4 linked regions of the Homo sapiens genome follow. The protein of the gene in region 2 purifies or fractionates together with the protein of the main gene of each other region. This does not show direct contact. Each region holds a gene or a part of one and is shown on either strand. Other genes may lie near its edges. The genes, in order: LRATD2, GDE1, REEP5 and ATL3.

Region 1 (7,299 bases), on a different chromosome or scaffold from region 2:
AGTGCCTCCTCCGAAGAGGTGTGTGGGATGTGACACTCGGGTCACTGTTGGGGGGATGAAGCTGCCGTATGGCTGAGAATTCAAACCCAACTAATATTTCTTTATCGAACTGCTGCTCTTGGGGAAGGCATTTTCCCAGCCTGCTCTTTGCTTTCCTCCAGCCTCCATCTGCCTGGGATGCCTTTCCTCCCACAGCCCAGGCCTCTGTGGGACCTGCTTCCTTTCTTGCTCCTGCAGTCCATTTCCTGTAGGGCAGCTGCCTGGATGCCCTTAAACTCAAAGGCTCGCCCACCTCTCTACCTGCACCTCCTGTCATAGCTACATTCACTCACTGTACTCTGGTCACAACTGTAGTCTTTCCTTTTTCCTAATCACTTCCAGTCTTTTCCCCCTCTAACCTTTGCTCTTGGTCTTCCCTCTGGAGGTAATATCAAGGCTGGCTCCTCATCCTTCAAGTCTCTGCTCATTTCTATTTCCTCAGGAGCCCTTCCCTGACCATCTTAACCCAAGTAGGCCACCCCCATTACCCTCTCCTTACTGACAGCTATTCAATCCCATTTCCCTATTTTACCTTCTTCATAGCCCTGCTCTCTCTCTCTCAGATATTTCCATTGATTCATTTACTTATTTATTATTTGCCTCCTCTCATCAACATGTAAAAGCCATAAGAGCGGGGACGTTGCTTGCTACATCCACAACTGTATCCTTGGAGTCTGGTAAACCCAGACACCCAAATATTTGTTAAATATTGTAGAATCTGTTGGATTCTATTTAAAACAAAGAAGTTAAAAGCATGGGCCTGGCCGGGCACAGTGGCTCATGCCTCTAATCCCAGCACTTTGGGAAGCTGAAGTGGGCAGATCACCTGAAGTCAGGAGTTCAAAACCATCCTGGCCAACATGGCAAAACCCCATCTCTACTAAACTTATAAAAAAATTAGCCCAGTGTGGTGGCAGGCACCTGTAGTCCCAGCTACTCGGGAGGCTGAGGCACGAGAATCGCTTGAACTCGGGAGGTGGAGGTCGCAGTGAGCCAAGATCACGCCGTTGCACTCCAGCCTGGGTGACAGAGTGAGACTCCATCTCAAACAAACACACAAACAAACAAAACAAAAAGCATGGGCCTGGAAGTAAAGTGGGCTTGTGTGATCTTTCCACCTACCAGCTGGGAGAAGCCATGGCCTCTCTAACCTTTCTTCTCCTTTATAAAAGAATCAAGAGCTCACTCCATGGGAGTTATTAATTTTAGAGTTGTGTTTCCCCGATGAGCCCAAGACCCTGTTGGCAGGCACTTGGTCATTAATCTCTGTATCCACCATGCCTTGAAACATCACCTTACCGCCCCAGCATCCTCTATGTCTTATTACAGGACATGTCACAGTGTCCCAAAGAGTCTATTTATTTCTCTGTCTCCTCCAATATGGTGACTACCTGGGGACACGAACATCTAAGAAACCTAGCACAGTGCCCATTGTAGAATTGGATGCACAGTGATTAAGACTAGCAGGCACCCAGTATGTCTTCATGAAATGTATTTTGAACCAAGTCCTCTTTAGAAAAGACATGAATAAATATATTAATTAGAATATGAACTTTAATACATGAATTAGAGAATAATACCAGATAGTATATGATCAAGTGCTGAGTTACACATATTCAGGTAATAAAATGTGTAGTACAGGTATTGGATGGCAAAGGTGGCCAACAGAGAGCTTCCTGGACCAGGCAAGGGACCTAGGTACGTGAGGTGTGGGGGACAGGGACTGGATCCAACTGGAGAATATAGTTCACCCGCAAGGCAACTACCACTTCTCTCCAGCAATTTGTTGCCATCCTGGAATATGGGTCTGATTGTCTCATATCTTTATTTTATTTACAGACAGAGTCTCACTCTGTCACCCAGACTGGAGTGCAATGGCGTGATCTCGGCTCACTGCAACCTCTGCCTCCCGGGTTCAAGCAATTCTCCTGCTTCAGCCTCCTGAATAGCTGGAATTATAGGCGCACCCCACCACTCCCGGCTACTAATTTTGTATTTTTAATAGAGATGGGGTTTCACCATGTTGGCCAGGCTGGTCTCGAACTCCTGATCTCAAGTGATCCTGCCTTGGCCTCCCAAAGTGCTGAAATTACAGGCATGAGCCACCACGCCCAGCCAAGTCTCATATCTTTAGATTTTTCAAATGAAACTGGGAATATGAATTTTTTAATATCTCCCAAGTTTTCAAATTGTTGACAACAAGCTTAAATTTATTAAACAACTATTTGAAATGAGCAAAGCATGTCTGAGAGCCATGTTGTAATCTCTGACCAAATGTTCCAGGTGACAAGACGGATGTTGAACCCTCAACAGGCATTCATGGAAGAATCTACACTAGACGCCAGCTATCAAAAGGCAACATTTCTTCACTCACTCACTCACAGCCCCATAAAACCAGGAAGCAATTCTTGACCTGTGGCCAAATTTTCCCCTAAGGCATCCATCAAGCATTTATTGAGTACCCACTCAGTGCCAGGCATTCAGATATAAAATGGATCAGGGCTTGTTCCCTCTGAGGCTTTATAGTTGGTCAGTTCAAGATATGTTGTTGAGCCACTATTGTGCACCTGAGAACAGCTCATCAAGACAAAAGGAGACACACCTAGTCAGCTAGGCATTGCTTCCTCACCCACCAGATCTCTGACCTAGAGTGCTGGTAGCAAATTGTCCTACAACTGTGTCCTCTCAGTTCAATTCTCCCATTCCCAGCCATCCCAGTAGCACCTAGGAGCAAAGTGGCCTCCCAAATCAGGCAGTAGCAGAGGTCTCCCAATCTGATGAACATAGGATGACCAGCCATAATCTCTATAAGCCTAACTCTTGTCTATAATATGGTGATCATATGATGGCAACAAATATCACTCAGGTAACAGCAGCCCCCCACACCATTTGCTATCAAAAGGACTGGGGTGTGTTGGATTCATTCAGTCACATGCGCCTGAGGCCAGCCAGTCTGAAATTATTGAAACAGAATCGCACAGCACACAGTAGTCTCATGTTGATCTAACTTATACTTCAGACTTGCTGAAGGACTAATTTCTATCACAGCCCTGCCAATATTGATTGTTTGGACTCAAAATTACATAAGTAGAATGATTTTTATTTTTTTCTCCTAAACTAGAAAGGATCACAGTAGTGCTAGTATATTCCTGTTTCCACTGGCTGGTTATACATGCTGGAAAAAATTAGTCAAAAGAAAGCAACTGAAGACAGAATATAGGTCTTGAATCGCATTCTTAAGTCCCCTACGAATAAGTCTGGGTGCTTGCAGTAGTGCCTAAACTTGTTTATTGTAAACAGAGCTGTTAATCCTCCACCCTCACCGGACCCATTATTTTAAAAAAATAAACAACAACAACAACAAAAAAAACACTTTGGTAGCCTACATTTAGGTAAAAGAAACGAAACCAGTGGAGAGGTGGAAGTGTCCTTTTGTGGTGGAGGTTAGTAGGCATTACTGGTCTCCTGTCACTTCCCTAAGTCAACAGGAAGGAAATATATCCACTAGGGCCTCTGCTAATTTGTTTCTAATTTAAGGACAATTAGAATTAGGATGTAGGAATTAGGCAATTCCTACATCCCCTAACCCCCCACCCCCCCAAAAAAAAGCAGTCAGAGCTGCACGCTTCTCTCACTATCCAACGAACTGGTACCTCTCTGGAAATAACGGAGGTTATGAACTTTGTACTAACTTCCAGGGGTATCTAATAAACAGAGCGGTGGTCTTGGGACCCAGTCAGTGAATAAGTCTTCGTTCTGTTTTATACTGTTTCTTTTCTGCGATTTTCTTTTCTACCCCAAAGTTTCCCACTACTAACTCTGAAAACACCTCTAGGATGACGCACTCTTCGAGCTGTCCTGGTGAAGAATCCTTTCTTGTGACCTTTAGGGCAAGAAATATGTTCCAGGAAAGAAAAGAAACGACTGTTCCTCCTTCTCCAGGTACTCTGGGAAAAAACAGGTCAAAGGGAAAAGGCGCAAACACCAAACTCTCCTTCCCTTTCTCATTTCCACACTGGCAAGTTGTGTTTGCCTTCTAACTTGTCTCGGAAGGCAAGCAGAGCTCACAGCACCAGCCCCAGGCGGCGGGTGGATTATTTACAGGGGGATTTAAACCCGCTCCGGCGCGGGGGCGTGGCCGGGCGGAGTCCCGAGGCCCGAGTGGGCGGGGCGGGGGCGGGGCTCCCGGCCGCTCGGCGCAATGTGAAAAAGACCCGAGCTCGGGGAGTGAGCGCCTGTCTCTTTAAATGCCACGGGCTGCGCTCCCGCCCGGGAGCCCGGAGCCGGATCTACAATCCCGTCCCTCCAGCTCCGGTGCTTGTTGCTCGCCCGGCCCAAGCGGGAGCTGTTGCCGCCAGGCTGCGAGGCTGCCGTCCTCTCCTCCTCGCGCCCCACCTCCCCCGAGAGCTGGCTGAGGAGGGGCAGCAGCCCCAGCTGGCGGGAGGAAGCGCGGTGTGAACAGGGATTGCCCCCCGCCTTCAAGTATCGGGGCGCTACGCAGCCGCGGGGGAAAGACATGCCCCTAGTCTGCCCGCTGCGCTGCCCTCTGCCCAGCCTCGCTGCCGCCCGCGCCGGGAGAGGAGGGACTGCCGAGCCTACACCTTCAAACTCGCCCTAGAAGTCTCGGGGCGCGGCAGGGAGCCCTTCCCCAGGCCCCACGGCCTTCACCTCTCCGCGGGTGAGTTTGTGCAGGTAACCCGAGCCTGAGGGCGGGCGCGGGGGAAGGGCGGGCGAGCCGGGAGGAGGTAGCGCTGCAGGTGAGCCAGGTAGGGTGACTCACCTGTCCAGGTCGCGCTCTGAGATCCTCGCTTGTTCCTCTGGGGATGGATGCGTTGGTGGGGAGGAGGCGTCCCCGGGGCTAGTTAGGGCCCGAGGGTGGGAGGGGAAGTTAGCAGAGGAGGGGGGGGATTGGCGTAAAGTTTCTCTTTCCTTCCCTCTTCCTGCCCAAGCTTGGCAGGTAGGGCGCAGGCGGAAGCAGTAGAAGCTGCTGATGCAATGGGCTTTTGCCAGGGCCAGGCGAAGGGCTGGGGACAGGGAGAACAGGAGTTGCCCAGTCTCCTGTGACCGTGACCTTACAGGTGGAGAAACGAGGGAAAGCTCGCTACACCCGAGACTTCCCCCTAAAATGGCTCCAGGTGCTGAGCCCCCACCGATTCTTTTTCGGAACAAAACGCCCTTTTCACGGAGGGGCTCCTGCATGGCTTTCTTGCCTTCCTCTCCCAACAGGTAGCCTCAGCCCCTGTCCGGGGACCTGTGCAAATGACCCTGGAGTTGGTTTCGCTTTCTCCCCTTGCGGCGGTGTGAACGTGTGTCCGCAGCGTGATGGGCAACCAGGTGGAGAAATTGACCCACCTAAGTTACAAGGAAGTTCCCACGGCCGACCCGACTGGCGTGGACCGGGACGACGGGCCCCGCATTGGGGTCTCCTACATTTTCTCCAATGACGATGAGGACGTGGAGCCGCAGCCGCCGCCTCAGGGGCCAGATGGCGGCGGCTTGCCCGACGGTGGGGACGGGCCGCCGCCGCCCCAGCCGCAGCCCTACGATCCGCGGCTGCACGAGGTGGAATGCTCCGTGTTCTACCGGGACGAATGCATCTACCAGAAGAGCTTCGCGCCGGGCTCGGCGGCGCTGAGTACCTACACGCCCGAGAACCTGCTCAACAAGTGCAAGCCGGGCGATCTGGTGGAGTTCGTGTCGCAGGCTCAGTACCCGCACTGGGCCGTATATGTGGGTAACTTCCAGGTGGTGCACCTGCACCGGCTGGAGGTGATTAACAGCTTCCTGACTGACGCCAGCCAGGGCCGTCGCGGCCGCGTGGTCAACGATCTGTACCGCTACAAGCCGCTAAGCTCCAGCGCCGTGGTGCGCAACGCGCTGGCGCACGTGGGTGCCAAGGAGCGCGAGCTGAGCTGGCGCAACTCGGAGAGTTTCGCCGCCTGGTGCCGCTACGGCAAGCGCGAGTTCAAGATCGGCGGCGAGCTGCGCATCGGCAAGCAGCCCTACCGGCTGCAGATTCAGCTGTCGGCGCAGCGCAGCCACACGCTCGAGTTCCAGAGTCTAGAGGACCTGATCATGGAGAAGCGACGCAACGACCAGATCGGGCGCGCGGCCGTGCTGCAGGAGCTCGCCACGCACCTGCACCCGGCGGAGCCGGAGGAGGGCGACAGCAACGTGGCGCGGACTACGCCGCCTCCCGGGCGCCCCCCTGCGCCCAGCTCCGAGGAGGAGGACGGAGAGGCAGTGGCACACTGATGGGCGAGCTGAGCGCAGAGCTGCGAAGGGGAACTGTTTGCAGTAGCAGCCGCTGCTCCCTTTCTCCCTCTCTTCCTCCCTCTTTTGCCACTGTCTGGGCCCCATCTGGGATTCCTGGGCCCTTTGGAAAAGAGTTGGTGAAATGCGCAGCCGGCTGTGGACGGGGGAGGAGGAAGGGGACAGAGGGAGCAGGTAGGAAACACTTTAGTTGGGGGTGGGGGGCGTCTCCCTCTGGCCCCCTGTCTGTCTTCCTCTCCGCGGTGGAGCAAACTGTGGACTTGCCTGGCACTTAAACCTTGGTAGATCTGGGTTTATAATCGGCCATTCTTAAGCACGTGGGGTTGGGGGAAAGTTCGGAGTACCCATTCCTGCCGTTGCTTCCTATCCTGGGCTTGGAAGAATCCTGGTAGAAAGGCCAGAGTGGGTTTGTGGAGTCGCCACTGCGGGACCAGCACGAAAGCTGCTTGTCTGCTTTGGCGGAGCTGAGCTGTGTATGGGATCCAGGAGGCTGGGGTGATTTATTTTATGGGATTCCTGGAGCGCAGGGCTGGTGAATCCATGACAAGGTCCGGGAGCAGCAGACCAAAACCACAGCAGCCTCCTATTAAGTGTAACAAATAGTTAAGCAAACTCGGGCTACAAACAAAGACTTTGCTACCTCCCTCCTCCACAACCCCCAAGTAATTAGCCTTCTGGAGCTGGCTCTTAGCTGAGGCTCCTGCTACCTCCTGCTCCACCCGCCCCTTCCTAGGTTACAAGTAAATCATTGTCAAGGGCCAGCCAGGGGAAGGTTTCAATTAAGGTTCTGTTCTGCTGCCTTTGTTTCTCCCCTGCTGTTGTAGGCACTTACAGCTGCGTTGTTATGAAAGGAGGGAATAGCCCTTTGTGTCTTTGATCTAATTAAACCTGCTTGGCTGTGTTTATCCGCAGGGCAGGTCACAGATAGGGTTGGCTGTGCCACTCCATAAAGTATCTATTGTGGAAGCAGCCAAAAAGGGCTGCTGT
Region 2 (3,941 bases):
CCTCCCATCTCAGCCCCTATTTGTAAATTTTTTGTAGAGATGGGGTCTCACTATGTTGCCCAGGCTAGTGTTGAACAGCCTGTTGAACAGCTAGTGTTGAACAGAGGTATCTTTTTTTTTTTTTTTTTTTTTTTTTTGAGACAGAGTCTTGCTCTCTGGCCTAGGCTGGAGTGCAGTGGTACAATCTTGGCTCACTGCAACCTCTGACTCCTGGGTTCAAGCAATTCTCCTTGCTTCAGCCTCCTGAATAGCTGGGATTACAGGCATGTGCCACCATGCCCAACTAATGTTTGTATTTTTAGTAGAGATGGGGTTTCCCCATCATGGCCAGGCTGGTCTCAAACTCCTGGCCTCAAGTGATCCACCCACCTCAGCTCCCAAAGTGCTGGGATTACAGGTATGAGCCATCACGCCTGGCCTGATGTATCTTCTTTGGTCACTTTTTCCTCCTCCTTTCACTCTAGTCATAACATGGCACGGAAGTACATGCAGTTTAGACATTTGTTGCACTCAATGAACAAATCTTTGTTGTTTATTTTAAAATTCAAGACAATTTTTTTGCAAATGCTGATTCAAAACGTACCAATCCCCATCTATCATGCCTATGCCAATACAATCTGTCACAAAAAAGTTTGCTTCTCATTGTCACATAGCTATGGGGACTGGTGGCCTTCTAAAATCACTGTCCAGCTGCTGCAAGTGTGAGGCCAGCAACCCACGGCAGGGATGCAGGAGGGAAGCCATGGCTAAGCTGTGGGCCTGGACAAAGGCCACAGATGGGGTTGAAAGGTGAGAAGCGGTAAGCTAGAGGAGACAGACGGCGTTGCCATTAAAAACAATTCAACTTCATTTTAATGTTGCTATGTAAGTTCACAATAAAATCCCTGGAAGTTCAAATTGGAAAGAGCAGTTTGGGGTCATGGGCTCAACAATATAAAGGCAGATTCAGTGAGGGGTAAGGGTAGTGGCTCTGGGGGCAGACTGACCTAGATTTGAATGCCAGTTGTACCAGACTCAAGACACCTTGGGTAAGTGGTTTTATGAAGTACCTCAGTTCTTCATCAGTAGAAAGAGTGCTAACACCTCCATAAGACTTTTGTATGGATTGAGTAAGATAATGCATGTTAAACCACTTGTATAGTTTCTGGCTAACTGTAAACAAGATGTTCTAGAAGTTCTAGTTATCTTTTTTTTTTTTTTTTTTTTTTTTTTTTTAAGAGTCAGGTTCTCACTGTGCCACCAAGGTTGTAGTGCCGTGGTGTAATCATGGCTCATTGCAGCCTTGAACTTCTGGGCTCAAGTGATCCTCCCACCTCAACCTCCTGAGTAGCTGGGAATACAGGCATGCACCACCATGCCTAATTTTTTAGAGATGGGGTCTTGCTATATTGCCCAGTCTGGCCTCAAGTAATCCTCCTGCCTCAGCTTTCTGAATTGCTGGGATTATCGGCATGAGCCACTGTGCCCAGCTAAGCTGTGACTTTTGAGGCAACCCCTTCCCTTCCACAGAGTTTAGTTTCCTCATTTGTAAAATGAGGACAAACCTAGATATTTTTGGAAGTTTCTTCCAGTTCTAATTGCCTATGATCAGATCACATCTGTTGCAGAGCTTCCTAAAAAGCCTGGAAAAATGCAACTCTGCCCCCTGGTGGTTTGCAGCTCTCTATTCAAGATGCTATAAATCCCTCATTGGCTTCAAGACCTCCCTACCATTTTGGTTGCTGTACACTGAAGCCTCACTGGATTGCATGGTGGCTTCCCCAAATTCCGTATGCCTTAGGATATGATGCTTGGCACACAGTTTTCCTTTAGTGCTCCTTTTAATAATTTTATTAGTATGGCCACAAGTTTGATGTCTACAGTACATGTTAACATAGCTGAGTACAAATATTTGAAATAAGTGTGGCAAGTTTTAAAATGTCAACTCTGAGTTATCATGCATGTCCCATGCATTTACATCTGCATCTGCAAACTGTACAATTCAATCTGTGCTTATCCTCACTGGGTCTCCCTGTGTGCCTCAGCTAGGGCAGGGCAGGGGCTCTTGTGCGTTTTTTCAGACCCAGATTTTCAAGAGCAACAGTGTTGAACTCTGGCATGCCATGGTGCATGGTGGCAACACCGGGTTTAGCTTTGGTTCAGGTAAAAATGCAGTGACCAACTATTGCATTTGTGTGAGTCACCTGATTCCCCAGGGCCTGGGCTAGCACAAAGGGTATTTTGATATCCCTGTATGAGGCCCCTGGCAGTTTCTGAACCCGTTTCGTCCCACCGTGAAAGTCTAGAAGTGAGGTTCGCAGTCTTCTACCATGCTGTCAGTGATATAGCTGGAACCAAGATGGGATTCGTAGTAACTCTTTTCATCAAAGGTATTAACAGTCCAACCAACAACCTGGATTCCTTTAGCTGACCACTTCTTCAAGTAGGCCCTGGGGAAAGAGGAAAGCCAATCCTGTTAGAATAATAAGCAGCTGTCTCAGGAATCCATAATGGCCACTAAGTATGGTGTTCACTGCATACCAATGGTGCCCAGAGAATGCCTCCTAACTGGCCTCTGCACTGTGATCAGAGGGACTGTTCCAAAACCCAGGATGCCATGAACCTCCTCTACACTGTCCCAGCTTAAAACATTTCAGTAGCTCACTAATGATCGCCACCCCCAAATGTCCTTGGCACAGCCACTGAAGGTGTGCCTGACCTGGCCCCGACCTGTCTCCTTGGCTTCATCTCACACCACATTCCCCCTTTCTTTTCTGTGCTGATTAATTTTAAATTAATTGAAAGAATATTAATTTTCTTTCACTTCCTGGAAAGAACCATGTTCCTTCCTGCCAGAGCACATTACATGTATTTTTCTCTCTGATCTGGATTCCTCCCAATTCCCACTCACCCTTCAGATCTTAGCTTAACTGTCACTTCCTTGGGGATGCTGTTTCTGACAACCCAGACCAGATTAGATTATAGCCCATGCACAGTTTTCTCTGACATAGCCTGTATCTTAGTTTTAACTTTATATTGATTGGATTTTTATTTGATTAGCATCTCTCACTCTCCCACTTGGCTATAAACGTCACGAGGGCAGAGATCATGGCTTTGATTCTTTACCCACTGCATCTTCAGCTTCTCAACATGGAACCTTGCAATAGTATAGGCACTTACCAAATATTTATTGAACTGAATCATGTATGTCTGAAATAATACTAGACCTACAACTCTAATTAGCTGAAATATACAGATACAGAATTGCCAAAGAAATGATTCCGAGATCGCTAGCAGGTTAGGAAATGGAAATTTTATGGGGAGAGGTGGGGGAGTGCCTATAACATAAGACGGTAGTGGGGAGGCTGGTGCCCACAGGATGTCTTCACTGTGGTTCTGCCCAGGATCCTGTGTTGGCTTTCAAAAAAACCAGTCACAGAAATAAAATCCCTTGCTCAGCATAGTGTCACAGGTTCATTTTTTTTCTTCAAAATACACTAAAAAACCGAAAATATGTGATCGACTCGGTCTGAAAACAGTGAAATATGCCTGAACTCTTCCCACCTAAGAAGCGAAATTGGTAATCCAATTTAGAGGTATGGTAAGCTTTGCAGGTCAGAACCAATTCAGGTTGTCTACTCTGTTAATCCTTCCTTTCAAATAAGAGCATTCAGGATGTCTGTCTGGGTAAAATAAAAAACCTTCCAACTTACGGGGATACAAAATCCTTTTGCATGAGGAAAGCTGAAATTCCACACAGGTACCACAAGATATTATGCATGCTCCAATCGAGCAAAATGTCCATCATAACAAATATAAAATGTTTCCAGAAAGTATCATAGCGTGGTTTCCCATCTCCTGTATGGCTTAGGCTCCAAGGTCTGTGAGTTAATGCTGTTATTACATCCCGATCTGTTTGTCTCATCTGCAAAGGAATTTGGGGAAGTAAAATAATGATCATA
Region 3 (7,035 bases), on a different chromosome or scaffold from region 2:
GCCAGAAACCTCAGTTTTAAGCTTTTTTCTTCTCTCACCATGACTACATGGGGCACTTCACTTTTTTGAACCTCACGTTCCTGAGTGAGCTAGACCATCTCTTCCCTTTTTTCTTGTTTTGGGTAGTTTGTGATTGTTATGACACATAAAGACATTTTTTAAATTGAACATTGTGCTATTTTAAATTAAAACAATTAAATGCTTCAATAATATGAGAAGATCTATTAAAAAATCTCTTTAGCTTAATAGACTCATTGGCCTTTTCCTGGCTTCTTTCATATGCCTTGGTTTTCTGCAAAGTTGTGATCAGTGTATGTATTCAATTTGGAGTTCTTTTATTTCTACTTTTCAATGTTACTATATAGTGTTCTAGTATATTAACATGGGGACTTTAGAATTCATATTGTAGATATGAATTAAAAAAGAATTTTTTTTTCCTAGAAGAGCTGAACTGTTAGGCTTCCTGTTTTTCAATCTGTGGAACTTGACTAACATTTAAAAAATAATGAAATAGAATGGAATTTAAAATATCAGAATGGTTTCAGGAAATATCTATTTAAGTTTATATTTTTATGTGAAGATGTCTGTTTACTGGATCATGATGTAAAATGTATGCTTACCGAGGGTTGTGGCCAAAAGAATTTAAAAGCCACTGGATTAACAATGACAGTCCCATCACATTTTGAGGTTTTTACGTCATATTCTAGAAAAGACTGTTTAATTCCCAGGTGTGTCCTGAGAGTTGCTTCTTTTGGAAGTACATAGTTGTGAGCTATTGCGTTCACAAAACTAAGACCTTGAGTGAAATGTAATTACGTATCTCCTCTGCCCAGAATGAATGTACAGGAAACAAATTTTTATTATACTAATAATTAAATAAATCCAATTAAATATGGATAAGCCATACTATACCAAATGAAACACAGCGGGAGAAGAAATCTTACACATAAAGGATATACTGTGTTCTTTGGTTAACATGCTTGTCTACACTTTTCCTTTGGCCTTCTATTACATTCGCCAGCTTCTATCTGAAGGAAGCTAAAAAAATACAGACTTTGTGCATACATTACAAGCCATTTTTTAATAATCAGCTCTCTTAAATTCATTTTATATGATTCTTGTACTTTGAAATATTTGGGGCTGGGTGTGGGAGCCACCAGACTGCACTTTGGGAGGCCAAGGCAGGAGGATTGCTTGAGGCCAGGAGTTCGAGACCAGCCTGGGCAACACAGTGAGACCTTGTCTCTACTAAAAATTTAGCAAGTAGCTAGGTGTGGTGGTGTGTACCTGTAGTACCAGCTACTTGGGAGGCTGAAGTGAAGGGAATTACATAAGCCCAGAAGTTTGAGGTTGCAGTGAGCTATTATTGTGCAACTGCACTCCAGCCTGTGCAGAGACCCTGTCTCAAAAAAATAAAAATTTTGCCTAGTCTTGAAGTTCAAAGCAACATTCACCTTATTACTTGTTCCTCTCTCTGTCTTCCTCATTAGTAATCATCTCATTGAGCTACAATTTTTCCCCTTTTGGTTATTTTCTAAAACTCACACACATAGCTGCTTCTAATTAACTGTACAAGGGCTTTCTTAGTGAGTGACTGAGCATGATTTAGCAGCCTGACTGTCTCTTTGGGGAGCTGATGTTATGGAGTAGCCAATGTATTTGCTTTTTGAAAATTTTTTATTTCAATAGGTTTTTGGGTAACAGGTGGCGTTTGGTTACATGGATAAGTTTTTAGTGGCAATTTCTGAGATTTCGGTGCACCCATCAACTGAGCAGGGTACACTGTACCCAATGTGTAGTCTTTTATCCCTCACTACCCCCAGCCCTTTCCCCAAAGTCCCCATAGTCCATTGTATCTTATGCCTTTGCATCCTCATAGCTTAGCTCCCTGTCAATGTATTTTCAGTAGTTAACCTGTTTCATAGGCTAAACAAGATTCAGAGTTCTTTTATTTTACTGTTTCAGTCCAGCTCAGTTACGATAAATATCTAGATCTGTTAGGATAAGAAATTGTGGAGCTTCAGGTTTAGAATAATGAGATTCCTAGGACTGAAGGAAATTTCTGTGATTTAGAAAATTATTTTAAATGTATTTCCATCCATTTGCAGAATGAATTTTGTTTAAGCAATAGTTAGGGTTGGGAAAGTCCTGTTATTAACTGAGGAGAGGAGGAAAGTCCATAGCCTGTGGATCAGTTAAAGACATTCTGAACTAAATAGACACCATGAGGTTTGTTTTCACCCGTTTACTATAAAATATGCTGTGGATTTTGGGCAGTACCTAACCTATGTTCCAAATGTTGCTTTATGGGAAATTCTTATTCACCCATGATATATCTCAATTATTAAAAGTACATAAGAACCTGGTTATCACGAGAGAATTCTTCCTGATATATCCCTCGTGGCAGGACCCAGCTTGGGAGTGGAAATTGCTCTAGCTCCCAGTCACTAGTGGTATATTCTAGGACTTGTGGGGAGGCTTTGGCAGGGTGGAGATCCAGGGCAGTAACAGCTGGTGCTGGTTTCTCTGGTGACCAGGAGACTAGAAACAAGTGGTTATAATGGCTTGTCCCGATATCCACATTGCTTCCAGTCTTTAAGCTGTACTCTTGCATCTAGTGACACAGTGCCTACATGTGCCTAAGTTTCTCAGTGGTATCAGAGGACAGGTTATGAAAGTGTATTTGAAAATCTTTCATTGATATCTTACCAAATGATATACTTTCTTTTGTACTGCCTTTCAGAATTAAAGCTATAGAGAGTCCCAACAAAGAAGATGATACCCAGTGGCTGACCTACTGGGTAGTGTATGGTGTGTTCAGCATTGCTGAATTCTTCTCTGATATCTTCCTGTCATGGTTCCCCTTCTACTACATGCTGAAGGTATGTTGGTCTTGCTACCACTAAAACTCCATCTCAGTACCTGTATAGAAGAAGTAGGAATAAATGCTTGAATGTTGTGCATCTGTGGCTCTGTCTCAGATTATAAACAAGAAGACAGGCCTGGGCAACAGAGCGAGACTCTGTCTCAAAAAAAACAAAAACAAAAAAATGCTCAAGCAAGCCACTTGCCTCAGCCTCCCGAGTAGCTGGGACCATAGGCGCACACCACTGCACCTGGCTACTCTTTTAAACAATTTTATCTAAAGAAATTTAGATATAGGAAATTAAATATAGGAAGCTCCATCACTCCAACCACCATCATAAATGGTAGTATCTTGAGTTTTAGTTCTGGTTAATTATGGATATATAATTCTTTTTGTCTTTGGTCTTAGCCTTTTTTTTTTTTTTTCTTTTTTTGAGATGGAGTCTTGCTCCGTCGCCCAGGCTAGAGTGCAGTGGCATGATCTTGGCTCACTGCAACCTCCACCCCCCAGGTTCAAGCAATTCTCCTGCCTCAGCCTCCTGAGTAGCAGGGATTACAGGCGCCCACCACCATGCTTGGCTAATTTTTGTATTTTTAGTAGAGACAGGGTTGGTTTTTTTAAAAATCTATTTATTTGTACTTCTTCTGGGAGATTTCTCAATCTGACCTCCTTTTTTTTTTTTCTGAGATGGACTCTTGGTCTGTTGCCCAGGCTAGAGTGCCATGGTACAATCTCCGCTCACTGCAACCTCCGCATCCTGGGTTCAAGTGATTGTCCTGCCTCAGCCTCCCGAGTAGCTGGGATTACAGGCATGTGCCACCACGCCTGGTCAATTTTTGTATTTTTTTTGGTAGAGAAAGAGTTTCACCATGTTGGCCAGGGTGCTCTCGAACTCCTGACCTTAAGCAATCCACCCACCTCGGCCTCCCAAAGTGCTGGGATTACAGGCGTGAGCCACCGTGCCCGGACTCAATCTGACCATCTAATTTTCAACTGTACTCCATGATTACATTATAACCATTCTGTTATTCCTGCTATATACCGTGTTCTTCATTTCAACTATTATATTGTTCACACCTAATGTTTTTGCTTGGCTCTCTTCTTCTTGTCCTTGTTTCATATTGCTAATATTTTCTCATTTCTTTTAGTATGGTTACCGCTCCCCAGTTTAAAATTCTTGGTCAGCAGTTCTAATATTGTTGCTCCTGACCAAAACTTGTAGTTGATTGTGTTGTTTTTCTTTTGAAATGTACTCTTGGCCAGGCGTGGTGGCTCATGCCTGCAATTCTAGCACTTTGGGAGGCCGAGGCGGGCAGATGGCCTGAGCTCAGGAGTTCGAGACCAGCCTGGGCAACACGGTGAAACCCTGTCTCTACTAAAATACAAACGAAATTAGCTGGGTGTGGCAGAGTGCACCTGTAGTCCCAGCTACTCAGGAGGTGAGGCAGGAGAACTGCTTGAATCTGGGATGCAGAGGTTGCAGTGAACCGAGATCACACTACTGCACTCCAGCCTAGGCAACAGAGCCAGACTCCATCTCTAAAAAAAAAAAAAGAAATATATTCTTAAAATATCTTTTTATTTTAGCCTACAAACTGCTTTTCATCCATGAGTATCAGCTATCCCATCAGGCACTGGAATGGAGGGGGCCCCAGTCCATGCTAGTACTAGTAAGTTCTGGGTAGGGGGTGGATGAGTCCTAGGAGTGGGGGGCCCCAGGCACACAGGAACCATAGTTAACCACTCTTCACCTACAGAAGAGCTCCTCAGGTCAAAGCTTCACTGTACAGTCCCCTTCTACCCCAGCAAAGCAGCATCAAAAGGAAGTGATCCTGGGTTATAGTTCACAGCTCTAGGGGTTGGAGCAGGAGGGGTAGGGAAGTAACTGCCTTTAGTTAGTGTCCACCTGTTTTCCTGAGTGATTTGCAAAGACAGGACTTTTATGCCAAAACCTCTGTTTTAGAAAAAAGTAGAGGACAATATTTTTTAACTTTGAGGTATAGAAGCAAGACAAAATACAAAAGTTTCAAAGAAAAAGATTTGATAAATTCAACTAAAAATTTCTAAAAATTAAATTTCTATATGACAGTGGGCAGCATAAACAAAGTTAAAATAATGACAGACTAGGAAGATAGATTTACAACATTTACACCAAATAAGGAATATCCAGAATACATAACAATTTCCATAAGTAAAAAGAAAAAGAAAATGGGAAAAGGTTCTAAGTTAAGTATTTCACGGAAGAGAAAAAATATGAATGGCTAGTAAACAGCTCACCAGTGATGTGGGAAGTGTGAGTTAAAATAGTGAAATCCCATATTTTGTTCATTAAACTGGCAGATATTTTAAAGATTGAAAATATCTGGTATTGGTGAATGTATAGGGAAATGGACATGTAATGGTACAGGCTGAACATCTGAAATTGGAAATCCTAAATGCTTTAAAACCCCAAACTTTTTGAGTGCCCACATAATGATCAAAGGAAATGCTCATTGGAGCATTTAGATTTTAGAGTTTCTGATTTGGTATGCTCAGTTGGTATAATGTACATATTCCAAAATCTGAATAAATGTGAAACCCGAAACACTTTTAGTCCCAAGCATTTCACATAAGGGATACTTAACAGCCTAGTGGTATAAACTTGAATAACCTTTTTAAGGGACCTTTTAACCATTTCTTGTTGAATTGAAAAATGATACTCTTAACAATTCTAAGGAAATAGTCACTGTGCATTAAAGAGCTGCACAAAGATATTCATGGCAGCATTTTTTGTTGTCAACTGTATATAATATGAACTGCATAATGTAAACATTATAAACAGAAATGTCCATCAGCAGGTAAATGGTTCATTCAATTAATAGTATATCCATACAGTTAAATGGAATGAAATAGATCCATATGTACAGACCCAGAAATTTTTGCATAATTTAGTAATTATGAAAAGTTATACAGGACAGTTGTGCTAGCTTTTGCCTGTAATCCCAGCATACTCGGAGGCCAAGGCAGAAGGACTGCTTGAGGCCAGGAGTTTGACACCATCCTGGGCAACATGGTGAGACCCTGTCTCCACACACACAAATTTAAAAATTAACCAGGCTCCCAGATCACAGCATGTTGACCAAAAAAAAAAAAACCGAAAACCAAAAAACAAATGCCAGGCATGGTGGTGCATGCCTGTGGTCCCATCTGCTCAGGAGGCTGAGGTGGGAGGATGGTTTGAGCCCAGGAGTTCAAGGCTACAATAAGCAATGATCACCCAACTGCACTCTAGCCTGGGTGACAGAGTGAGACCCTGTCTCGAAAAAGAAAAAAAGTAATAGAACATTAAATACAGTATCACACCATTTATGGTTAAAAAAGAAAAAAGACAAGACACTATATGAAGTGAGTGTCTTTTAAAGTTTAAAAAATTAAATGAAAACATGCTCAGTATAGATTCTTTTATATTTTTGAATGACTTCACCACAGAATGCCTTGTAAGGCAATTAAGAATTTTCCTTTCAAAACTGATGGAAGAAAATAAAAATTGGTCTGTGGAAAGAGTTGATTTCAAAGATTGGATTTTTTTGTTTTTATTATTCAAAGTCATTTAACATTTATAAAAATATTCTTACAATCTTTAATTTGGACATGACATAATTTAAACTTCAGATAATTTTAAAGCCCTTAATAAGATCCATCTAATCGTAGGGACCTCACAGTAGTCTTTAGTGGAAAGAAATTGGCTTTTGCTTTGGGCCCACTTGCTTGTGGCAGTGAACACTATCTTGTCAGCAGAACTACTTGCAGTAGTTCTGACCTCAGACTTCCAAATGTGAGCAAGCTTGACTTCTAGCCTACTCCTAATCACCTCTGCTAATGGAGTTCACAGAGAGGTAGAGAGAAGATCCAAAATAAATGGTAGTCACTGAATCATTTATATTTGGTTTTGAAGTTCATTTAAAATATTGCTTTGTAGCAGACTTTCTTCCCTAATGGTAAAATGAATGTGCATCCATTAGTAGTCTCCAGCTGCATGGCATCATAGTGTTCATGAAAGTGAATTTATTGCATACATTCCAAATAGATAACATACTTGAAAGGATTAAACATTCATGATGCTGTCAATCAAAATACTTTCTTCCTACATTAGTGGCATACTCTGAATGACCTAGTGAACAGACTGAGAA
Region 4 (7,035 bases), on a different chromosome or scaffold from region 2:
ATTAATTCTATAGTTCAAAATTAAGCACTAACTATATTATACTTTCCTTACCAGAGTTTCCCTACCAAAGCACAAAGATAACTAATTAATTTGAAATTCAGGCCAGGCACAGCATCCACGCCTGTAATCCTAGCACTTAGAGAAGCTGAGATGGCAGGATTGCTTGAGGCCAGGAGTTCAAGACCAACTTGGCCAATATAGCGAGAGACTGTCTTAAAGAGAAGAGAAGAGAAGAGAAGGCAAGGGGCCGGGCGTGCTGGCTCACCTGCGCAATCCCAGCACTTTGGGAGGCCGAGGCGGGCAGATCACCTGAGGTTGTGAGTTCCAGACCAGCCTGACCAACATGGAGAAACCCCATCTCTACTAAAAATACAAAATTAGCCCGGTGTGGTGGCACGTGCTTGTAATCCCAGCTACTTAGGAGGCTGAGGCAGGAGAATCGCTTGAACCCAGTAGGTGGAGGTTGTGGTGAGCTGAGATTGCACCACTGCACTCCAGCCTGGGCAAAAGAGTGACACTCCGTCTCAAAAAAAAAAAGTGAAAAGAAAGCAAGAAGGAAATTCATTCAGGCTAGACATGGTGGCTCACACCTGTAATCCCAGCACTTTGGGGGCCAAGGCAGGCGTGTCACCTGAGGTCAGGAGTTCGAGACCACCCTGGTCCAACATGGTGAAACTCCATCTCTACTAAAAATACAAAAATTAGCCGGGCGTGGTGGTGGGTGCCTGTAATCCCAGCTACTCCAGAGGCTGAGGCAGGAGAATTACTTGAACCTGCACGGTGGAGGCTGCAGTGAGCCAAGACCGTGCCACTGCACTCCAGCCTAGATTTCAGAGCAAGACTCTATCTCAAAAAAAAAAAAAAAAAGAAAGAAAGAAAGAAATTCAGAGCCACTTAGTAGCTGTGGACTTATGGGAAGTTCACAAAAAACTACCAGTGGGGCGTAAGGAATGAATAAAGAACTATTTCCCTAAGAGTATGTGTCACTGGTATTAAAGATGTTTTTAGGTAGTTAAAAGGACATAGTAATTTTAATAATTATGCATGTTAATGTATACTTTAAAACAACAAATCTGTATTTTGATAAATTATTCTTTAGAAGGATGCTAAGTTTAAGAAGTCTGTTTATTTATTTAAGACAAGGTCTGGCTCTATAACTCAGGCTGGAGTGCAATGGCACAATCTTGCCTCACTGCAACCTCTGCCTCTCCGGCCCAAGTCATCCTCCCACCTCAGCCTCCCAAGTAGCTGGGACTACAGGCATTCATCACCACACCCAGCTAATTTTTGTATTTTTGGAGAGACAGTGTTTCACCATGTTGCCCAGGCCCGTCTTGAACTCCTGAGCTCAAATGATCCACTCGTCTCAACCTCCCAAAGTGTTGGGATTACAGCGACACCGTACCCAGCCAAGAAGTCAATTTAAAGTCGACTTAAGGAGACATATTAAGTAAAGCTTAGTACTGACAGGCAGACATGGCCAAAATCACAGCGACACAGTACCCAGCCAAGAAGTCCATTTAAAGTAGACTTAAGGAGACATAGTAAGTAAAGCTTAGTACTGACAGGCAGACATGGCCAAAATCACAAAGATGGTTCCAAAATGACTTTGTCTAACCAGCACTGAAGGCTACACGATCATGGCAGGCAAAGCAGACAAAACAGTTTGACTGCAAGACTCTCTCCCCTTCAAGCTACTGGAATTGCTGCTCACTTTTTACATTTATAGTATCAGATAGCAACAGAAGGGTTCTTCGCACTTTTTTTTTTTTTGGAGACAGTATTTTGCTCTGGCACACAGGCTGGAATGCAGTGGTGCAATCCTAGCTTACTGCAGCCTCAAACTCCTGGGTTCAAGCAATCCTCCCACCTCAGCCACCAGAGTAGCTGGCAGTACAGGTGTGTGCCACCATGCCTGGCTAATTTTTTAATTTTTTTGTAGAGATGGGGGTCTCATTATGTGGCCCACATTAGTCTCAAACTCCTGGGCTCTAGTGATCCTCTCACCTCAGCCTCCCAGAATGCTGGGATGATAGGCCACTGTGAATGTGGATGATAGCCACTGTGGCTGGCTTCTTCCTACTTTTTAAGTTTTTGCAGACTATTGGAAAACAAGTTATAAATATAGGTTAAATGTCATGCTATCATTGTAATCAATGTATACTAATACTTTTCTTTCCTGTTATTGCCTGGATTAAAAAGGAAACACTTCTGTGAATAATCTCTTAGGGTTCTTATTGCCCCAGCAGCAGGTAAATCCAAGATCCAAAGACCTTCAGTCTTTCATACAAAGAACTAATGAGAAGAATTTATTCAGACTTCAGGGATAAGCCACAGTGTTAAGTACTGTGTAGCACTCAAAGAAATACAAAACAAAGTCTTGATTGTGGCAGAGATGTCTGGTTGTTCCCCCAATATTAATTTCTCCCTCCTGCTATATAATAGATTTTTAGCTGGGCATACAACTGCCCAGAAGAAACACATTTCCAACCCAAATTTATAGCTAGGATATGACCAGGTGACTAAATTCTGAACAATGGGAAGTGACTGGAAATAACAGACACAACTTCCAGATCAGGCATTTTCCCCCTGCTTGCTGGCTAGATGTAAAAGTGGGAGTGAATCATCTTGGGCCAGGCATATGAGGGCAACACCCCAGGAATGCTGGAGAAACAAGAGAGGTCAGATTTCGTATAGCAGAACTGCCATATTGGTTCACTTCTGTGTGAAAGAAAAATAAATGTCTACCTTGCTTAAATCACTTATTTGGAGGCTCCATCAAATACAGCCAAGCCTAGCAGCCAACACAACAGTCTTCCAGGACTTTACAATTAAGTTCATCATACCAGATCTTTTTGTTTTATCTATTTCACTATTAAAAGTTTACTGAGCGAGGCCAGCCTCGGTGGCCCATGCCTGTAATCCCAGCACCTTGGGAGGCCGAGGCAGGCAGGTCACTTGAGGTCAGGAGTTCGAGACCACCCTGGCCAACATGGTGAAACCCCATCTCTACCAAAAATATAAAAAATTAGCTGGGCGTGGTGGTAGGCACCCGTAATCCCAGCTACTCGGGAGACTGAAGCAGGAGAATCGCTTGAACCCGGGAGGCAGAGGTTGCTGTGAGCCAACATTGCGCCACTGCACTCTAGCCTGGGCAACAGAGCGAAACTCTGTCTTTTAAAAAAAAGCGTACTGAGCAATGTGAATGTAATGAGCAATATCAATGTAATGACACACAGCACATACAATAAGCTATTGTTTTTTTGTTTTTTTTTTTTGAGACGGAGTCTCGCTCTGTTGCCCAGGCTGGAGTGCAGTGGCGCGATCTTGGCTCAGCGCAACCTCCGCCTCCCGGGTTCAAGCGACTCCCGAGCAGCTGGGACCACAGGCATGCACCTCCATGCCCGGCTAATTTTTGTATTTTTAGTAGATAGAAGGTTTCACCATATTGGCCAGGCTGGTCTCGAACTCCTAACCCTGTGATCCACCTGCCTCAGCCTCCCAAAGTGCTGGGATTACAGGCGTGAGCCACCGCACCCGGCCAATAAACTATTGTAAAATGAATGAATGACATGTACCATAATGTGGTTGAAGGCTACAACCCAAAGGATCCAAGTGGCATTGTCAGAGCAGTAGACATGGAAGATAAAGTTACGTGGTTACAAGATGGGGTAATCCAATGATAAGAATGTATACAGTTGAGACTGGGCATGGGGGCTCATGCCTGTCAATCCCAACACTGGAAGGCCAAGGTGGGTGGATCACCTGAAGTCAGGAGTTCAAGACCACCCTGACCAACATGGAGAAACTCTGTCTCTACTAAAAATACAAAATTAGCTGGGCGTGGTGGCACATGCCTGTAATCCCAGCTACTCGGGAGGCTGAGGCAGGAGAATCGCTTGAACCCCGGGAGGCGGAGGTTGCGGTGAGCTGAGATTAAGCCATTGCACTCCAGCCTGGGTGACAGAGTGAGACTCCATCTCAAAAAAAAAAAAAAAAAAGAAGAATGTATACAGTTGTGTACAGTGAACTGCACTTCAAGAGAAGCTGAAGACTACTGAGGACAGCTATGGGGGAAAAGTCCTTACTCATCTCTTCCTCTCCCTGTAGCACGGTACCCAAGAATAAAGGAAGGGAACCAGGCTCTGTTTAGTTGGAAGAGCTGGGGTGATTCTGCATTTCTCTTCACACCAGTAATATAAGCATGATTATCAACACCCACCAGATTAAAAAAGATCTTGTTGGCCAGGCATGGGAGGTCTCGCCTATAATCCTAGCACTTTTGGGAGGTTGAGGCAGGCAGATCACCTGAGATCAGGAGTTCGAGACCAGCCTGGGCAACACGGCGAAACCCCATCTCTACTAAAAATATGAAAATTAACCAGGCTTGGTGGTAACGCGCCTGTAATCCCAGCTACTTGGTATCACTTGAACCTGGGAGGCAGAGGTTGCAGTAAGTCAACCACTGCACTACAATCAGGACAACAGAGCAAGACCCTGTCTCAAAAAAAAAAAAAGATGTTGTTCACTGACAGTGATCCTTGGGTTTGGGCTTATGTAAGGGAAGAATTATTTTGAGCTGTACACACCAATAATGCAAGTTAAATGGAGCTGCTTATATATTACACCTTTTTTAAGACTGGGTCTCACTCTGTTGCACAGGCTAGAGGTGCGGTGGTGCAATCATGGTTCACTGCAGCCTCAACCTACCGGGCTCAGGCAATCCTCCCACCTCAGCCTCCCAGTATCATCTCACTGCAACCTCTGCCTCCTGGGTTCAAGCAATTCTCCTGCCTCAGCCTCCTAAGTAGCTGGGATTACAGGTACCCACCACCACGCCTAATTTTTGTATTTTTAGTAGAGGTGGCGTTTCACCACCTTGGCCAGGCTGGTCTCGAACTCCTGACCTCAGGTGATCCACCCGCCTCAGCCTCCCCAAGTACTGGGATTACAGGCGTGAGCCACCGCGCCCGGCCTACCCTCTATTTGGATGATACAACTTCACAGATCTCTAACTTGCATTTAGTCTAAATGTACAACTGCCTAAGGGACAGATTCACCTGCTTACTCTCAGAAGTAACCTGTGGAAATATACAAATTTAGGACTCAAAACACAAGTTCCTGTTCCAGCCCTGCCACTAACAACCTGTGTGATCCTGGGCATGTCTAGTTTTCAGTTTCATCACTAAAATGGGTCAAGTGCTAACTGGGTGTGGTGGCTCATGCATGTAATCCCAGCACTTTGGGAGGCCGAGGGGGGTGGATCGCACACCGTGCGATCAAGTGATCTATCCACCTCAGACTCTCAAAGTGCTGGGATTACAGGCATGAGCCACCGTGCCCGGTCCACTTGTCAGGAATCTTAAACTCTGGAGATCTAGTCTCCGGGGAGGGTACTAAAAATATCTGTAAGTGGCAACTTTACATGCCTTGTCCCTTTAGAGAAGCAATTATTTTCCAAGGTCTAATTCTGCATACTGCAACAACAGTTAATGCTGTATTACATTACTTACATGAATATGGATAACGTGATGTTTTTGCACAGACACAAAGCTACAGCTGGACCACTGTTACATCTATCATTCATATGTATTTATGTGAATTTACAACATATGTTTAAAATTCCAGAAATAAACAATTCGTAAGTCTTAAGATTGCAACGCAGTTCTTAGTACCATGATGAAATCTTGTGCTATCCTGCCTGGGACATGAATCATTCCCTTTTCCAGAGTATCCACACTGTATATGCTACCATGCCCATTAGTTATTTAGTAGCCTTCTCACTGATCAACGTAGTGTATACAGGGCTCAGTGCTATCAGCAGTTTCAGGCATCCACTGGGGGCCTTACAATATATGCCCCTCAGATAATGGGGACTACTTCATTGCTGTAAATAGCTCATGATAATATTCTATCACTCATCAGTTCAAGTATGTAGAAAATGTTGAAAATCTTTGTATAATTAGAAAGCATTTTTTTTTTTTTGAGACAGATTCTTGCTCTGTCGCCCAGGCTGGTGAGCAGTGGCGTCATTCCTGCTCACTGCAACCTCCACCTCCCAGGTTCAAGTGATTCTCCCACCTCAGCCTCCCAAGAGTTTAGGATTCCTGAGAAGTGGGCCGGGTGCAATGGCTCACGCCTGTAATCCCACCACTTTGGGAGGCCAAGGCGGATGGATCATTTGCAGCCAAGAGTTTGAGACCAGCCTGACCGATATAGTGGAACCCTGACTCTACTGAAAATTCAAAAAAATTGGCCAGGCGTGGTGGTGCATGACTGCAGTCCCAGCTACTCGGGAGGCTGAAGCAGGAGAATCACTTGAACTTGGGAGATGGAGGCTGCAGTGAGCTGAGATCGCGCCATTGCACTCCAGCCTGGGTGACAGAGCGAGACTCTGTATCAAAAAAAAAAAAAAAAAATGACAGTGTAGACTAGGGTTTCTCAACCTCAGCACTACTGACATATTGACATTGGAGCTGCACAACTGTTGTGGGGGGCTATCCTACGCACTACAGGCTATTGAGCAGCATCCCTGGCCTCTACCCACTAGATACCAGTAACACTCCCCACAACAGGTTCTAACACCCAAAAAACGTCTCCAGTCATTGCTAAATGCTCCAGGGGCAGGAAGAGGCAATATTACCATAGGTTAAGAACCACTGAGTAGAGTCAGCCTTGGTGTTTATCCTTACCATTCAAAGAGTTCTGAATACAAAGTAACCAACCAGTCACAGAAACACTTTGCTGAGTAGATTCATGTATGACTCAGGGTAAAGTTATGACCTGAGTTTTCCAGTCTCCTTATAAAATATCATATTCTCCAAAGGGCAAGAGCAACACACCCAAAACAGAGGCATACCATTTTCATGCCTTGTTCTTGCTGGCAGTCTTTAAGGTTTCTAACTGACAAAGCCAGAGAAAACATCATCACAGGCAAGAGTAAGTATACTAAGACCTTAGCCAACTCTAGAACTGCTGGGTGTGGTTCCTTCTGGTGGTGGAGGGGTGGGTGCTTTTATATACCGTTTTGTCTTA

What was found.
Region 1: the proteins of GDE1 (region 2) and LRATD2 purify together in Homo sapiens (affinity purification with mass spectrometry; 3 studies listed by BioGRID and IntAct, with this or other methods). This does not show direct contact.
Region 3: the proteins of GDE1 (region 2) and REEP5 purify together in Homo sapiens (affinity purification with mass spectrometry; 3 studies listed by BioGRID and IntAct, with this or other methods). This does not show direct contact.
Region 4: the proteins of GDE1 (region 2) and ATL3 purify together in Homo sapiens (affinity purification with mass spectrometry; 3 studies listed by BioGRID and IntAct, with this or other methods). This does not show direct contact.

What each region holds. Positions count from the first base shown.
Region 1 is NC_000008.11:126,555,452-126,562,750, reverse strand, and holds the start of LRATD2 (protein LRATD2), read left to right. Parts: upstream 1-4,272; 5' UTR 4,273-4,717; exon of another isoform or gene 4,718-5,265; 5' UTR 5,266-5,361; coding exon 5,362-6,294; 3' UTR 6,295-7,299.
Region 2 is NC_000016.10:19,501,189-19,505,129, forward strand, and holds the end of GDE1 (glycerophosphodiester phosphodiesterase 1), read right to left. Parts: intron 3,905-3,941; coding exon 3,693-3,904; intron 2,430-3,692; coding exon 2,282-2,429; 3' UTR 505-2,281; downstream 1-504. UniProt on the Homo sapiens protein: Hydrolyzes the phosphodiester bond of glycerophosphodiesters such as glycerophosphoinositol (GroPIns) and glycerophosphoethanolamine (GroPEth), to yield a glycerol phosphate and an alcohol.
Region 3 is NC_000005.10:112,898,227-112,905,261, reverse strand, and holds part of REEP5 (receptor expression-enhancing protein 5), read left to right. Parts: intron 1-2,743; coding exon 2,744-2,882; intron 2,883-6,890; exon of another isoform or gene 6,891-7,035. UniProt on the Homo sapiens protein: Plays an essential role in heart function and development by regulating the organization and function of the sarcoplasmic reticulum in cardiomyocytes.
Region 4 is NC_000011.10:63,661,363-63,668,397, forward strand, and holds part of ATL3 (atlastin-3), read right to left. Parts: intron 1-7,035. UniProt on the Homo sapiens protein: Atlastin-3 (ATL3) is a membrane-anchored GTPase that mediates the GTP-dependent fusion of endoplasmic reticulum (ER) membranes, maintaining the continuous ER network. It facilitates the formation of three-way junctions where ER tubules intersect.